Regions from separate parts of the Homo sapiens genome. Here regions 2 and 3 are each reported to be linked to region 1. Evidence: microRNA targets listed by miRTarBase, many of them from high-throughput screens and not tested one by one. Region 1 holds a microRNA gene; each other region holds the end of a gene's coding sequence.

Region 1 (3,204 bases):
CCCCCTGCGCACCCGCTCCCCTGCAGCCCGTGGCCCCTGGCCCGGCACCCTCATCTGCCTAGCACTGCCCCCGTGCTCTGCTGGCCCTGTGGCCTGGCCTCAGTTTCCCCATGCCCTGTGCAGGCTGTGGGCCCAGAAGGCATGGAGGCTGGGGAAAGCGGAAGCAACCCACAGATGTTCCCGGGGCTGCCCCTCCAAGGCTGCCCAGCCTCGACTCGGTTTCCCGCCCTGGCCCCGGCCGACGCACCGGGCATGCAGATGCACTGGAACTCCCCAATCTGGTCCAGGCAGGTGGCGTCGTTCTGGCACGGGTTCGAGACGCACTCGTTGACGTCGATCTCGCATCGGGGGCCCGTGTAGCCCTGCAGACACTGGCACTCGAAGGAGCCCAGCGTGTTGATGCACTTGCCCGCATGCTCGCAGGGGTTGGCACCTGGCGAGGGCACACGGGTGAGAGGCTGCTCCAGGCACCCTGGCCCCTGCAACACCTCACTGCACACCACCCCCATCGGACTGGCAGGGTCCCATCCCCCATCTAACTGGGCACCCCCTGAAGCCAGAATCGACTTCTCATCGGTTCTGGGGCCAGGCTGCCACCCCCACCTGGCCGCACCCCCTGTGCTGGCACCTACCCAGCGAGCACTCATCCACGTCCTGGCTGCAGGCCGGGCCCGTGTACCCCGAGGGGCAGGTGCAGATGGCCTTGCCATTGACAGGGTTGGTGTCGCAGTTGGAGCCCTCGTTACAGGGGTTGCTGATGCATGCGTCGTTGAGGTGGCACAGCAGACCTGGGCAGGCAGCGGCGGTCAGTGGGCACGGCCCCTGGGCCAGGCATGGCACACCACCCACGGCTGGGGTCCAACCCCACTGACACCCCAGGAGGAGCTGCCCGCCGTGACCCCGTCGGGCATCCCGTGACACTTGGGACGTTCCGGGGGACTCACAGCGACCACCGGCCTCCCTGACCAGAAAGGCCCTTTCAGGTTATCCTGGGTGCAGGAGGGCCACAGTCCCTGGGTGAGGTCACACAGCTCAGGCCTGGCCCATGTGAGCCCCCTGCGCCCACCTGGGCCTCAAGGCACTCACCTGTGCGGCCATGGGGACACTCGCAGTAGAAGGAGGCCACACGGTCATGGCAGGTGGCGCCGTGGAAGCAGGCGGCGCTGGCACAGTCATCAATGTTCTCGCTGCAGTCCTCACCAGTCCAGCCGTTGACACACACGCAGTTGTAGCCACCGTGGGTGTTGTGGCAGGTCCCGCCGTTCTGGCAGGCATTTGGCATCAGCTGGCACTCGTCCACATCCTCGGTACAGTACTGACCTGCAGGGAACAGGAGCTGTCGGCCCCGGGCAGCTGCCACTCCCTGAGCTCCCTGTCCCCTAAGACGCAGGGTGGCAATGCCGCCCCCTCCAGGAAGCCTTCCTGGGCTGACTCCTCCACCCACCGCCAGCCTAAATCACTCCTTCCTCTGCAGGCCCAGCACCATGGAGTCTTGCCTCCTCTTTGTGCTCTGTGGACACTGCTGCGTCGGGGTGCACCTTTGCCCGTCACCCCACCAGAGGGTAATTCCCGAACACAGGGCCTGTCTGTTCATCCAGGCATCCCTGTGACTGGCCCAGGAAGCGTGGCCTGAGTGGGGTGCTGAAGGCCCTCAATGCCAGGACACCCCACTGGGCACAGGGGCTGCCTGGAGCCAGGTTGCAAACGGCCCACACAGACCAACCAGGGCCCTGTCTGTGCTGACCCCCGAGGTGAGGGGCACCAGACCCTGGCCACGGGAAGTGGGGCCCCCATCATGTTGTCCTTCTCGGCCAACCCTAGTCTGCCTGGCCTGGGACAGGGTCTCGGCTGCTCCCCGCTATGCCTGTGAGTGCAGTTTAGTAAGTGGGTAGCAGCCCCGCCCCGGCTACCCCGCCCTGCGGCGACCCGTATACGCGCCTGTCCACTCTGGCGGGCAGCGGCAGTTGTAGGTGTTCACGCCGTCCACACAGGCACCCCCGTTCTTGCAGTTGTTTCCTGGACAATCGTCGATATTTTCCTCACAGTTCTGGCCGGTGAAGCCTGCCGCAAGAGGGGCCGGGTCAGCCTCTTCCCTGAGGTCCAGTCCGGCTCCTGCCTGGACCCCCGACACACTGCTCTGGACACAAGAGCCTGGCCTCCACGGCCCTGCCCTGGGGCCCCCGGGGTCTGTGCCCGTCCCCTGCCTCACTCCAGTGCCCAGAGGGACACGCCCTGCTTGAAAGAATCATTTTGGACAGGACTGGCTAAACAGGGACTCAGGAACACAGGGTTCCAGAAGATTCTGTCACAAAAACCCTTGGGTCTCTTTTAAGAGGTTCCGGCAGCTCCTGCACCTGGGTGCCGCCTGCATGCTCAGAGCTCCCTACAATGTCTCCACAGGGGGGCCGCACACCCCATCTTCAGGGGCTGACACTGGGGCCTGGGCTCTGAGCAGCAGGGGGACATGGGGCCAGCAGGCTGCTGGCTGGGGCAGGGTGGGCCCCTCGCAGCCCCAGGGAAGCTGCAGAGATTCAGATGGCCCATCCTCCCTGGGGCAGAGCTCTGGTGCCCACCTCCTCCTCCCCCTCCTCCTCCACAGGCTGCCAGGGCCCCCTCCCCCGAGGTATGGCCCCACCCAGGCCTCCAAGGCAGCCAGTTAGCTATTAATCCACTCAACTCCCGCTGGTTCAATGATCAACCCAGAAAGGCGCGTTCGGCAACAGCCAAACCTGCAGCCGGTTACTAATTGCCGCCCTCCCGAGATGCCTTTGAACCCCCGTTGCCCTTGGAGCTCCCACCTGCTCGGCCCCTCCCTCTGAGACATTGCCCCACCGCCACCACCCCGTCCGTTCTGTCTGTCTGCTGGACCGGAGCAAAAGCAGGCAGCCAGAGACAACCAAAATCCAAAATGCAAATCAGCTTGGGGAGCACCCAAAACCAGACCCCAGCCCTGGCGCGGTGGCTCACGCCTGGAATCCCGGCACTTTGGGAGGCTGAAGTGGGTGGATCGCTTGCGCCCAGGAGTTCAAGACCAGCCTGGACAACATGGCGAAACCCCGTCTCTACAAAAAAAAATACAAGAAGTAGCAAAGCGTGGTGGCGCCGGCCTGTGGTCCCAAGCTACTTGAGGGGCTGAGGCAGAAGGATCGCTTTAGCCTGGGAGGTCAAGGCTGCAGTGAGCTGAGGGCACGTCACTGTACTCCA
Region 2 (3,247 bases), not on the chromosome of region 1:
GAATAAAAGAATGTTTAAGCAATATTAACAACAATAAATGAATAAAATCGTGTGTTTCTCCTAGGCTTCCTGCAGAGGTGGATCCTGTGACAGTATTTGCCTCACTTTCCCCAGAGGGTCTGCTGATCATCGAAGCTCCCCAGGTCCCTCCTTACTCAACATTTGGAGAGAGCAGTTTCAACAACGAGCTTCCCCAGGACAGCCAGGAAGTCACCTGTACCTGAGATGCCAGTACTGGCCCATCCTTGTTTTGTCCCCAACCCTAGGGCTTCTCTGATTCCAGGATACATTACTTTAGCTGAACTCAGATTTAGTGCAAGTAAAATGTTAGAGGGTGCGGGGGTGAGGACTGACCACAGATTCCCTGGATAGTGTAGTGGTAGATTTCTCCACAGGATAGCGCAATTGGCAAATCATGCTTGGTTGTGTTAGGCCAAAATACTAGTTTTGCTTTCTTTACCTTTTCTATCTTGATGAAAATGTTGCACATTCTATAGTTGCAAAACACATAAAAGGGGACTTAACATTTCACGTTGTATCTTACTTGCAGTGAATGCAAGGGTTACTTTTCTCTGGGGACCTCCCCCATCACCCAGGTTCCTACTCTGGGCTCCCGATTCCCATGGCTCCCAAACCATGCCGCATGGTTTGGTTAATGAAACCCAGTAGCTAACCCCACTGTGCTTCCACATGCCTGGCCTAAAATGGGTGATATACAGGTCTTATATCCCCATATGGAATTTATCCATCAACCACATAAAAACAAACAGTGCCTTCTGCCCTCTGCCCAGATGTGTCCAGCACGTTCTCAAAGTTTCCACATTAGCACTCCCTAAGGACGCTGGGAGCCTGTCAGTTTATGATCTGACCTAGGTCCCCCCTTTCTTCTGTCCCCTGTGTTTAAGTCGGGATTTTTACAGAGGGAGCTGTCTCCAGACAGCTCCATCAGGAACCAAGCAAAGGCCAGATAGCCTGACAGATAGGCTAGTGGTATTGTGTATATGGGCGGGACGTGTGTGTCATTATTATTTGAGTTATGCTGTTGTTTAGGGGTAAATAACAGTAAATAATTAATAATAATAATAATAATAATAAAGGAGCTGACGTTCTTAGCCTTGTGTGGTTCTTTTAATGAGGAACTAAATGTAATACCACCTAGATATACAACATCAGTTAGCAATGCTGTGGCTTAAAGTAATGTTGCGCGGAGCCGCGATGCCTAAAGGAGGGAGAAAGGGAGGCCACAAAGGCTGGGCGAGGCAGTATAGGAGCCCTGAGGAGATCGACGTACAGCTGCAGGCTGAGAAGCAGAAGGCCAGGGAAGAAGAGGAGCAAAAAGAAGGTGGAGATGGGGCTGCAGGTGACCCCAAAAAGGAGAAGAAATCTCTAGACTCAGATGAGAGTGAGGATGAAGAAGATGACTACCAGCAAAACCGCAAAGGCGTTGAAGGGCTCTTCAACATCGAGAACCCCAACCAGGTGGCACAGACAACCAAAAAGGTCACACAACTGTATCTGGATGGGCCAAAGGAGCTTTCGAGGAGAGAACGAGAAGAGATTGAGAAGCAGAAGGCAAAAGAGCGTTACATGAAAATGCACTTGGCCGGGAAGACAGAGCAAGCCAAGGCTGACCTGGCCCGCTGGCCATCATCCGGAAACAGCGGGAGGAGGCTGCCCGGAAGAAGGAAGAGGAAAGGAAAGCAAAAGATGATGCCACATTGTCAGGAAAACGAATGCAGTCGCTCTCCCTGTATAAGTAACCGCGACCCATGGGAGGAGATGCCGGGGACCTGGGCCGCGCTGCCAGGACCTCTGCTGTGTCTCGCCCACCCTGTGCCCTGGCGCCGCCGCAACAGCCCCTCGTGGCCAGGAGCCCCCCATGGCCTGGGGCCTCCTCTTCATTTTGGCACAGAAATTGTTTGGGGGATGTGGGGGGAGCTGGGGGAGGGGCAGTTGCTATCTTTGAGACAGAAAGATGAGGGACAGCATTTCACATGTAACCATTTGAATGTTTTTGCTGTTTTTAGAATTCAGAGCCCTTGCTGGGGGGTGCCTGGGAGATGGGGTAAGAAGAGCTTTCATTTTTCTGGTAGATAGCATGTAAGGGGGTGGTTGTCCCAGGAGGCAGCTGCTGACAGGTTTGCTACACCCAGCCCCGGACTGTGTTGCCTAGGTGCTCATTCAGAGAGGGGCTGTCATCTGGGAGCCTGTGCCCCTGGGTCCTCGAGGGTTATGGCTTGTCCCTGGTCAGTCCTGTCTGATCGAGGCCTCGCCTCTCTGCCCCTCCCTGCCCAGTTCCTACCCACCTGGCTAAGGCCAGTGCCCATTTTTAACCCTACCCATTGATCATTTCAAGAAACCTCTGTTTACTGTGTGGCACCCAGGCAAAACATGTTCCACAAGTTCAACTTGTATATTTGGCAGATTAAACTTGACATTATCGTAAAAAAATAAAAATAAAAAATATAAAAAATAAAGTAATGTTGCCTGATGAACAGTGGCTTAAATGATATAAATAGCTGTTTTCTAACTTCACAAAAAGTTTAGAGGTAAGTAGATACACAGTTTTTTTTTCAGCTGTTATGCCACCAAGAGCCCAGGATATTTCCATTTTTTTCTCTGCCATCTCTGACAAGTGTACATAGTCACAGTCTATCCTCATGGTTACAAGATGGCTGCAGCAGCTCCAGGCATCTCATCCTCATATGACAATGTATGGGGAATAGAAGGAAGTCATAAAAAGGTATTATCACCTAGCTTCTTTTATCAGTGAGCAGGATATCGTCCAGAAGCTCCCAGCAGACTTCTTTTTCTATCTCATTGGCCAAAAGTGGGTCACATGCCTACCCTGAGACCAATTTCTGCCAAAAGGGAAAAGGATGGTCATGACAGGCTTGGATCAACATCTTCTGAGGCCTGCAACATTGCTACCTGAACAAAACAAGGTTCTGCTAGGAAGGAGGAAAGAGGCCTAGCAGCTCTGAGGGCAGTTAACAGTGCTGTGGCTGCCACGGGTTTGGATGCTGCCAGGAACACAGATCCCTGACTGTAGGGTGGGAGGGAGAAGGGCTGCTGTGGTAAGTGCCAGGAGACCCAACTCAAACTAATTTAAACCAAAAGGGGTTTTTATTGGTGCACATAGCTGAGAAGTCTGGGATAAGAGCTGCTTGCTAGGAGAGCTGGATTCGGGGCACTAATGCTATCAACAGAATTGTTTCCCTCCATCTGACGTGGCCCTGCAGTAGTG
Region 3 (3,250 bases), not on the chromosome of region 1:
CCCACGCCTCCCACTCCTTAAAGACCACAGGGCTGGGGGGCAGACACCTGGGATTCTAATTTGGTATGTGACCCCAGGCTACCCCTGGGAGGCTCCTGTCCTCATCTGCAAAGTGGGGAGAAAGGGGGGTTTCTATGAGGATTCAGTGAGACAATGCCTGGGCACAGGGCTGCCTGGCACCCAGCAGGGAACTTAATAAATGTCTGGTTTCCAATTCCCACCAATGCATTTCCCAGCCCTTCTCCTCCCCTCAAGCACTAATTGTCTGAGTTACGACCCTACTTTGGTGTCTGGCTGCCTACAAGCAAAGTGAGGAGGTCTCCTTCGGTAGAACTGGTGCTGAGCTGAGAATGGAGCCCTGGCCCGCCCCTTACTTCCAGAGCCTTGGGAGACATCATCAACCTCAGCATCAGCTTCCTCCTCTGGAAAGCAGCCACCCTCTTAAGTAACTGCAAACCATGCCGGCAAACTGCAAAGTGCTTAAGGCCAGGCATGAGGACAGGTCAGGAGGCAGGGTTTCGGGCCTGGCATTCTCAGAGTGGTCTCGGGAAGAACAAACCTGGACACCGAACTGGACAACAGCAGGACTCTGAGCACTTTGGGAGCTGTGTATGATGTGTTGCGGGGGTGGGTTGTGTCCAGATCAAAGGTGGGGAGGCGGTCTAGGCAGCAGCAGGAGGTGTATTCGAGGTCTGCAGCAATTCTTGCAGAGCCTGAATTACAGTGAGGCCCACACCCTCGTCCTGCTGCCCTGGCCTTGGCCATCTCCCATGTCAACCTCATCTTGATCTTGCCTACCTCCCTCCCCAGAAGCCAGGGGGCCATTTGGCATCAGGAACACAGGGATTAGCTGCACGGCCAGACCCCAGACCCCCGCCCAGGGGTCCCTCTTTGCTCTCCTGGCCAGCCCCACCCCACAGGCACCAACTTGGGCCAATGCCAGGCCACAGGTCAGACTCCCAGGCCTGGGACTCCTCTGCCCACCCACAACAACCACTGATGCTCCTCAGCAAGAGCCAACTTCTGGCTCTGAACGCAGCAGCACCCAGGATACAGCAAGGTGAATGCTAGGCACTCGTCCCACAGCCTGGGGTGTAGGGGAGGTCAGAGATACACACAAATCAAACTCTCTCCTCACTATATATATATATATATATATATATATATACACACACACACACACACACACACACACACACACATACACACAAGCACACCCCACCCACACTCATTAGGCCTGGAGGGGGGACTTCAGTTCTCCATCTTTGGCATCAATCTATCAAAGTCAGCTTTTCTGTACGAGACTGCTCGCTCCTTTCTGTACATGAATTAAATATATTATCTGTCTCTGCACTGAGTCACACGACGTTCACAGTACCGTGGGGAGGAGTGGAGGGTGGGGGCCTGAGGTGGGCAGGGCAGGGGGCCTGGGTAGAAAGGCGAGGCTGGCCTCCCCTTGGCCTGTGCCATTCAGGATCAGCCCAGTGTTGAGGAGACCTGGGGGATACAGAGGGGAGCCTTCTTCAGGGGCCCCGGCCACCCAGGCTTCCAGCCCCCGGAGGCAAGCCTCTCAGCATCAGAGCCTGCTCCTGTTCCACGTTCCTCTCCCTCAGATGGTGGCATCTACACCTCTCCCTGTCGTGGCCGCCCTCTGGGGTGGCAGGGGCTGGGGGAAGCTGGTATTGGGATCAGGTGGACAGAGCCACAAGGGCTGGGAAGGAAGGATGGGGAGGCTGTGCGAGCCTTCGGGAGCTGAGGTCAGCCTGGCACCAGTGTCAGGGTGACTCTGCATATCTGGGTGCCGTCCCCAGGACCCTGACCAGGCCTGGCTAATCAGAGCCCTGGGATGATAAGGTAAGCAGGAGCCACCTCGGGAAGGGGTGGACAGGCAGGAGCCGGTCACAGCTCCAAGGGCAGTGAGTACGGTACCACCTGCCAATTTAAGGCAACTCCATTCAGACTGATGAGCTGGGCGGGGGCTGGCTGAGGTGGCAGGCGTGCAACTGGCGGTCCCAGGCCACCTCTGGACACAGCTGGGCATCCAAGCATGCCAGCAAAGCGTATGCCGGCACTGCTCAGCCATGGTTCAAGCCAGAGGGTGTCGGGGAATGAGGGTAGGGTAGGGCTGATGGAAAGAGTGGGGACTACTATTCCTTCTGTTGCTGTGGGACACCTGCCAGGTGGGGTAGGCTTTGGCACACATGTGGGTACCTAGGATTCCAGGGTCCCAGAGAACATGCCATGTCTCTTCTTGCTCTCAGAGGGGAAAAAGATGAAACGTGTGTGGGCTCCAAGGGGCCAGAAAGGGGGACTACCAAACTGGCACTAGGCAGGTCCTGGGGGAGGAGGGTAGAGCCTGTATCCAGGGCAGAGTGCCCATCCTGGCGCCTTGATTCTGTCATCCGTGTGCATCCCACGCAGGTGCCCAAACACCAGGGTGGGAGAGGGTACGAGGACCGCCCCCCCCTCATGTCCTCTCAGGGAAGCAGCTTATGCCAGCCCCAACGTGGGTAAAGGAGGGGTTGGTATGCAGGTGAGGGCTACTGGGGAGGCACACGGGAAGCACAAAGAAGAAACAGCCGTGGCCAGAAGGGCTGCCAAGCGGTCTTCCAGGCTGGCTGTCAGCCCTCGTTCTTCAGTCCTCCGAGGGCCACACAGGCTCCATCCTACCCGAATTTGTGCTCCATGTGATCTCTTGTCCCTTGGCCACAGCAAGGTGGGCGTGGCTCAGAAGATGCTCTGCCGCCTGTTCTTCCCTCGTCCTGGAGAATGGAGAAGAGGTGGGGCTGCAGGGAGGAGGCTGGGCTGACGGGTACCCCAGGTCAGCAGGGACAGTCGCTGTCCCCCAGAGCTGCTCTGACAGAGCAAGCAAGGGCATGCAAACAGGAGCCGGTCTGACCTGGTGTCAAATCCCATCTCTGCTACTTACTAGCTGCATGAACTTGTGACTTAACCTCCCAGAGCCTCAGTTTCATTGACTATGAAATGGGGAATATTAATAGTACTAGCTTCAAGGGGTATTTTAAGGATTAAAGAAGACGATGCATGGAAAGCATTTGTCAATGTCCAAGGCCATTGACTGTTCTAGGAACAAAGTACCGTTCTCCCAGGATGGAATCTGATTAGAGAGCTCAGGGTTTGCAGAGAGAATGCACCAGAGACAGCATGCCTCTTTGCCAGGGCTACTGTCAAATGCAATGTCCTGTCTGGGGTGGAGGGTTGAGGAGGGAAGAGCTGGACGAGGAAGTCT

Evidence for each region. Region 1 holds the annotated microRNA hsa-miR-4673 (UCCAGGCAGGAGCCGGACUGGA, at 2,100-2,121, opposite strand). A microRNA usually pairs through its seed, bases 2 to 8, with sites in the 3' UTR of a target mRNA and lowers its output. Matches are read on the target gene's strand: a 7mer-m8 pairs with bases 2 to 8, a 7mer-A1 pairs with bases 2 to 7 and ends in A, and an 8mer does both.
Region 2: miRTarBase lists HSPB8 as a target of hsa-miR-4673. Seed matches in the 3' UTR shown: 7mer-m8 at 692-698.
Region 3: the mRNA of CDK18 is a reported target of hsa-miR-4673. Seed matches in the 3' UTR shown: 7mer-A1 at 2,609-2,615.

What each region holds. Positions count from the first base shown.
Region 1 is chr9:136,517,505-136,520,708 of GRCh38, forward strand. It overlaps MIR4673 (microRNA 4673), which reads right to left and starts at 2,122; the gene lies at 2,064-2,122. It overlaps NOTCH1 (notch receptor 1), which reads right to left. Exons shown (of 34, transcript NM_017617.5): 5 at 1,939-2,061; 6 at 1,087-1,320; 7 at 633-788; 8 at 248-433. All of the region lies in intron 1 of LOC124902310 (a long non-coding RNA gene), which reads left to right.
Region 2 is chr12:119,193,635-119,196,881 of GRCh38, forward strand. HSPB8 (heat shock protein family B (small) member 8) reads left to right here. Exons shown (of 3, transcript NM_014365.3): 3 at 65-1,112. The coding sequence ends at 224. It also overlaps the pseudogene PDAP1P1. Among named protein-coding and RNA genes, the nearest start is that of HSPB8-AS1, 11 kb to the left of the region's middle.
Region 3 is chr1:205,530,856-205,534,105 of GRCh38, reverse strand. It overlaps CDK18 (cyclin dependent kinase 18), which reads right to left. Exons shown (of 16, transcript NM_212502.3): 16 at 1,316-2,762. The coding sequence ends at 2,728. Among named protein-coding and RNA genes, the nearest start is that of CDK18, 28 kb to the right of the region's middle.